Linked DNA regions of Homo sapiens. The protein of the gene in region 2 interacts with the protein of the main gene of each other region in a biochemical or structural test. Each region holds a gene or a part of one and is shown on either strand. Other genes may lie near its edges.

The links. Proteins that work in one complex are often made in the same cells at the same time.
Region 1: the proteins of RALA (region 2) and CALM1 form a complex in vitro, tested with the Homo sapiens proteins (2 studies listed by BioGRID).

Annotation. Positions count from the first base shown.
Region 1 is NC_000014.9:90,400,029-90,403,528, reverse strand, and holds part of CALM1 (calmodulin-1), read right to left. Parts: intron 3,465-3,500; coding exon 3,434-3,464; intron 2,271-3,433; coding exon 2,127-2,270; intron 1-2,126. UniProt on the Homo sapiens protein: Calmodulin acts as part of a calcium signal transduction pathway by mediating the control of a large number of enzymes, ion channels, aquaporins and other proteins through calcium-binding. Calcium-binding is required for the activation of calmodulin.
Region 2 is NC_000007.14:39,626,572-39,630,071, reverse strand, and holds part of RALA (ras-related protein Ral-A precursor), read right to left. Parts: intron 1-3,500. UniProt on the Homo sapiens protein: Multifunctional GTPase involved in a variety of cellular processes including gene expression, cell migration, cell proliferation, oncogenic transformation and membrane trafficking.

The DNA of each region.
Region 1 (3,500 bases), on a different chromosome or scaffold from region 2:
ACTCCGAGGGAAGAAAGCGCCCCCGACTGCCATCCCTGAGTTAGGGAAATCACTCAGGTCTCACTCTGCCTTGGTTAGTGACAGCAGTAACACAAAAAAGGCCTAGAACTGAGCTGCAGGTTAAGTGTATAAAGTGTTTCAGAGGAGAAAAGATTATGAGAGAGGAACATTGATTCTGTTATGCCATGCATGGGCCATGAAGTCTTACCAAGTCTTCTCCAGGATCATTTCTTGGCCACGCTATGATGGTTAGCCACCTGTTTTCTTCCAACTCAGTATCTTTATTTCCCATTAAGGGAAAAGCTCAGGAGCATTCTCACAGCTCAGACTAGTAACACTTAGGGAACTGTCAGAACAATCTGTTCTACGGCCAGTACTCCAAACAACTCCTCTTTAAAACTAAGAGATGAATACCCCCAAAGACAAGCACTCCAGACTAACAGTGTCATTGAACTAAATGGAAATAAAATTAGAAAGAAAAACCCTTAGGTTAAGTTACTCATTTTCACCAGTACCTTTCAAAGAAAATACCTCAGGGATCCCTTCAAGACTTTTTTAGCCTCAAAAATTTTAAGATATTGTTCATATTCATCAAAAACAAAAGAAATTATTTTAAGCTATCTCACAGCCATGCAGAGAAGGTCAGGTACCATCCTGTTTTCTCAGTGCAAACACAGGATTCTGTAGCCTGGCACAACTTCTCCTTCTTCCACACAATCCAAGAGCCTAACAGACTTCTCCCCTCCCCAGGCACAGATTCCCGGGGCTCCCACAAACAAGAGGAAGTTACTCCACGTTCCTGGGTAGCTGATCATCTTAGCAAACTAGAGAACTATGGACAACCTTTTCTTTCCAAAACACTATTAGTGAAAACCACTCTAACGTGCTGAAGGCTTTGTCAAAGAACCTAATCAAAAGCTCTGCTGCCAAATGTTTGTGACCAGACAAGCGATTTTACTACACCACCCTCGAGTCAATCATCTAGAAAGTAAAATCTAGATCCGAATTGTTTATTCTTAATGCTTCTTTTATTTTTTCTTTTATCCTTTTCTCCTCCCAACTCATCTTTTAAAAATCATGTTCTATACTGTCATACAGTACATTAGAATATATATAGGATTTACCAAAATACGTGGTTTTTTTTTAGGGGTGGGGAAGTGTGCTTCAAAGCCTGCTTACTGATGGAAATCAGCAATCAAAGTTCTGTTGTCCGCTGCTGTAGAGTCGAGAGGAACAGATGACAGACCGCTATCAGGGTTACTGCTGGTTCCCTCTGGCCCTGCACCTTACAGCTTCCCTTTCCGTTAGGTTCTGCAAATCTATCCCCTGGAGTCACCACACATCCGCCTCCAAACCTCACATGCTCCTCTGCAGCAAACACATCTACAGCTCACACTGTACTCACTTTTATGGTAACTTCTAAGAGTGCTCGTCACCTACTTCATCTGGGGGTTCCTCCTCCTCTTTAAACACAGTAAGTTTGTTAAAAAGCACTTTCTATGGCTATTTAATTTCACCTCCCCCCTCAAGACTCAGTGCAGACTCATGGGCCAGTTGATAAAAGCTTTGAGCTCGGCCAGGAGCAGTGGTTCACGCCTGTAATCCCAGCACTTTGGGAGGCCGGGGAGGGCGGATCACGAGGTCAGGAGTTTGAGACCAGCCTGGCCAACATGGTGAAACCCCATCTCTACTAAAGATACAAAACACTAACTGGGCGTGGCGACACACGCCTGTAATTCCAGCTACTCAGAAGGCTGACGCAGGAGAATCGCTGGAACCCAAGAGGCAGAGGTTGCAGTGAGCCGAGATCGCGCCAGTGCCACTCCAGCCTGGGCGACAGGGCGAGACTCCGTCTCCAAAAAAAAAAAAAAAAATAGATTTGAGCTCTAGGTCGCACCAAGCAGGAAGAAAACAATAGTGATCCCATGCAGAAAACATTCTAGACACTAAGCAGGATGGACGCAAGGCCCATCATCTTCTATTTTAATTGTCAATGGCCCTGGGGCAACCACAGAAAGGATCTTTGCACATTTGCTTTGCTCTGGGGACCTGAAAGACAATCCTGTAACATGTCTGAACTTGAATTACACAACAATGGCCCTCATTCATGGTTTTAAAGCTCTTACCATCAGCATCCACTTCATTGATCATATCCTGCAATTCAGCTTCTGTTGGGTTCTGACCCAGTGACCTCATGACAGTTCCAAGTTCCTTTGTTGTGATGGTGCCATCGCCATCTTTATCAAATAGGGAGAAGGCTTCCTTGAATTCTGAAAACAAAAGTTGACCCGTTAGAATCAATGTCTTTATCCAACCCAGTCACAATACACACTTGCCGGGGGCTTGCCAAAGCCAGCCATTCAAGTTGTGCAACGTATCAGAAGTCTGGTCTTTATCTACTGAAATAATGACCACAATAGTCCTGTTGGACTGGCCTTCATACAGCAGCCCATAAAGCAAACACTGCTCCCAATAAACAGTGCCACACACCACAATATTCCCAAAGGTTTCAAGGCGGCTAAGCTGGAACATGCTTAAATTAGTCCTAAATCCAATCTTTTTTTTTTTTTTTAAACAATGGAGTCTCGCTCTGTCACCGAGATTGGAGTGCAGTGGTGCAATCTCAGCTCACTACAACCCCTGCCTCCCAGGTTCAAGGGACTAAATCCAATCTGACAAGATTGGTCCATGTGCCCCCTTCAAATCCCTTCCTGTTACATTTCTAAAGCCATAAGAATCCCTTGTTTCATAACAAATAAAATGGTTACTAGAAATGTACATTCCCAGGTAAACTCTCTCCACATGACTTTTAGAATATTTCAGAAGCATTCCTGGTTTCCTAACGAGAAACAGTCTCAAAACAAGTCCTCCAGGAATATTAAAAAGCTAAAATCTGCCAGACGTGGTGGCACATGCCTGTAGTCCCAGCTACTCAGGAGGCTGAGGCAGGAGGATTGCTTGAGCCCAGGAGTTAGAGACCAGCCTGGGCAACAGAGTTTAACTAATGTAACTTTCTTCCCAATTACTACAGTGGTCCTAACACTCATATTCACCCATTTCCATTTATTTTAGGATAGCGAGCACAAGCTTTCGTGGCAGATTACTGAAAGACCCATGGCATAAGAATTGTAAACTAAACCGCTGAGTAGCAGGCTCAGTACAATTAATCATACGCAAACTTTGCACATTGTGAAACATGGTCAAATTCTCCAGAGTTTAACATGTGGGCATCCTTAGTTTTACTTCCTTTCACCTCATCTATAAAGTACTGGCAAGAATAACATCTGACCTCAGTGTTTCTGCTTACTGTTCTTATTTAAATAAATTCTTAGAAAACTGCCCAGACTGTAGCGGGGAGGAACAGAGGAGTCACCAAAACTGAGTCAGTGCCTAGTTCTGGCCTTCTGGGGACTCCTTGGAGTTGTCAACTTACCAGCAATCTGTTCTTCGGTCAGCTGATCAGCCTATATGAAGAAAGAAAAGGTTATCATTCAGTCCAC
Region 2 (3,500 bases):
CCAGCAAGACTCTGTCTCAAAAAAAAGAAAAAAAGTAAAAGAAAGCTCGGCATGGTGGCTCACGCCTGTAATCCTAGCACTTGGGGAGGCTGAGGTGGACGGATCACGAGGTCAGGAGTTTGAGACCAGCCTGACCAACATGGTGAAACCCCATCTCTACTAAAAATACAAAATTAGGGTCAGGCACGGTGGCTCATGCCTGTAATCCCAACACTTTTGGAGGCCGAGGCAGGTGGATCACGAGGTCAGGAGATCGAGACCATCCTGGCTAACACGGTGAAACCCCATCTCTACTAAAAGTACAAAAAATTAGCCAGGCGTGGTGGCACGCGCCTGTAGTCCCAGCTACTCGGGAGGCTGAGGCAGGAAAATCGCTTGAACCTAGGAGGCAGAGGTTGCAGTGAGCTGAGATGGCGCCACTGTACTCCAGCCTGGCAGAGTGAGACCCCATCTCAAAATAAATAAATAAATACATACACACATACAAAAACGTGCTAGGCGTGGTGGCGTGCACCTGTAATCCCAGCTACTCAGGAGGCTGAGGCAGGAGAATCGCTTGAACCTGGGAGGCAGAGGTTGCAGTGAGCAGAGATCGTGCCACTGCACTCCAGCCTGGGCGACAGAGCGAAACTCCATCTCAAAAAGGAAAAAGAAAAGAAAAGAAAGTGAGCAAATAATATGAACAATAAAAATAAATATTAAAATGACCCTTAAACATATGAAAACATGTTCAATTCACTTGTAATAGAAGTACAAATGGAAAATACACTGAGATACAATTTCTTACCTATTAGATCAGCACAAATTCAAAAGCTGACAAAACACTGCTGGTGAGGCTGTGAGGAAATAAGCACTCTACTCTCATACACTGCTGGTAGGAATGCAAAATAGTATAACCCCACAGGATGAGGAGTTTGACAGTACCTAACAACTCTACATATGCATTTATCCTGAAGATGTATCTCTCCAACAATACAAAGATACATGTACACAAAGTTTTTCACTGTAACATCATTTGTAATTGCAAAATATTAGATATTACTTAAATGTTCAAACAGGACATTAGTCGAGAAAACTATGGTACATACACGATAGCAGTTAAGAATGAAAGTTACTGATTTTAGTTTATGTATTTTATCTTTTCACACAGCTACTGACTTGTTAGGAGATACATACTTATTAAGTTGTTCAGACCTAATTACTTAATAAATTAAACTGGCCAGGCATGGTTGCTGACGCCTGTAATCCCAGCACTTTGGGAGGCTGAGGCACATGGCTCACGAGGTCAGGAGTTCGAGACCAGCCTGGCCAGCATGGTGAAACCCCGTCTCTACTAAAAATACAAAAAATTAGCCAGGCATGGTGCCGCGTGCCTGTAATCCCAGCTACTCGGGAGGCTGAGGCAGGAGAATTGCTTGAACCTGGGAGGTGGAGGCGGCAGTGAGCCGAAATCGCGCCACTGCACTCCAGCACGGGTGAAAGAGCGAGACTCCGTCTCAAAAAACAAAAAACAAAAAAATTAAACTGTTAGGTGTTTCTTTTGACCTAGGGATGCTGTGAAAAAAATTACTGCGATAATAAGGGTGCCATGAATTGAGAAAGTTTGGGCACTTGACTGATAAAGGCCTACGAAGAAGGCCTTTAAGAGAGAGAAAGAATGTGTGTGTGTGTGTGTGTGTGTGTGTGTGTGTGTGTAGTTATGAGGTTACTGTGGACTGCTGTCAACAAAATTTACAATAGGCTAATGAAAGTACTCTCTCCAGTGTAGTTAAGAGCTGTAACAGATATTATGACAGCACATAAGAGAAGCAATCAGCCCAGTCTTAAAGGTTTTTTGTTTTTTGTTTTTTGAGGGATGGGATCCAGAGAGAGAACCTAATTGTAATTTTTTGGAGAATTATAACCTAAACTGAGTTCTGAAGGACCAGTAGGAGTATACTAGATTAGGGGAAGGAAGAGAGGCTAGAATTCCAGGAAGAGGAAATGGAGGACTGAGTAAACAAACACTAGCATTCCAGAAGCTGGGTATTGGTAGAACAAAAGATCATCCAAGAAGAGAGATAAGGCTAAAGGGTTAGGTAAGAAAAAAAATGAAAAATATGAAAGATAAAGGGGAAAAAAGAGAGTTAGGTAAGGAGCACATCTTGAAGGTTTTGTATATGAGATTAAGGATAAATGGAGTTTGAATTTTATTAATGGGCAAAAAAGAGCCACAAGAGGATTTTAAGCAGAGAAATATCACCATTGTTCTAAGCAAGAATGGGAAAAGTATCAGATGGGTTCCAACCATAGGCTAGAAGGCTGCTGTAGTAATCCAGAATATCTAGACAGGGCAGCTGAACTCAGTGTTTGGTCACGCAGTGTGGCAACCTCCACTTTTAATGGAGTACTATGTTAGCTTCTCAACTACATAAGAAAACAGATCCTGTGGCTTAGATGACCATAATCATAACTTTTGGAAACTGGGGGATCTTTGCCCACCTTCCCAATAAATCTGGGAGTATACGCCATTTTATAATCTAACTATGTCTTATTGTCCAAAATAACATTACCAAACCCTGACATTTAGTTTCAAAAGTAAATTCAGCAATAAAATTGGATCCCAGACTTTAAGGAGACTATGTATGTCAGTGTTACATCTATTGCATCTAATATAGGACCCTAGCTGTGAAGGCCTTTAAGAATAGTATAATTTTATGGAAGCATGCCTTTTTTGGCTTGTAAAGACTACCCTCTTGACTTTCAGAAACTAAGTCATCACCTTCACGTATAATTAAATCAAAGATGCAAATTCTCACCTAAAATTTACTCATACATATTTTAGAAACCCATAGAACTTTAATTTCTTTTTTTCTATACGGCAACCCAAATCCTTATGAATGCGATAAGGTAATAAGAAAGATGTCTTAAAGAAAAAACAGAATAACTGTTACTTATGGGGGCCAGACAATCAGCTGTTTTTTACTTAAGGGTACATCTTTTAAAAAAAAAAAAGAGAGAGAGAGAGAGATGGACACATTCTTCAAATTAAGCCTATTTAAAAGTGCATTTTAAAAAGTGCACAGGCTTAGGAGGGAAGAGAATTCTACCAGCACTGAATAGCAGCTAAACCCTTACAAGACTTCTGCCACTTTTAAGCCTCCATCTTAAACCCAGAGAAAATGATTAATGGTCTCAAACGGTTAAAAACAGACCAAGCACATCTCTGCTTCTTTTACCATTCTTTCTACTGTCCCCCATAGCTTCTCCCCCATTTCCATTAGTGAAAGAACGAACTAAAAAAAATGTGATTTCAAGGAAAGGTCACTACAAATAGATTTATGGTATTCCTCTCAAATAGGGACGATTCTGTTACTTTAAAAAGCACTAATCAAACACCAGAATTGAGTCCAAATACTTTACCGGGACACCCACGGGAAAAATGCCCAACCATTTTTCCATCATGGCACACATGGACGGTGATAACACTGTATTTGTAGGCACGCTGAAGATAAAAGAGA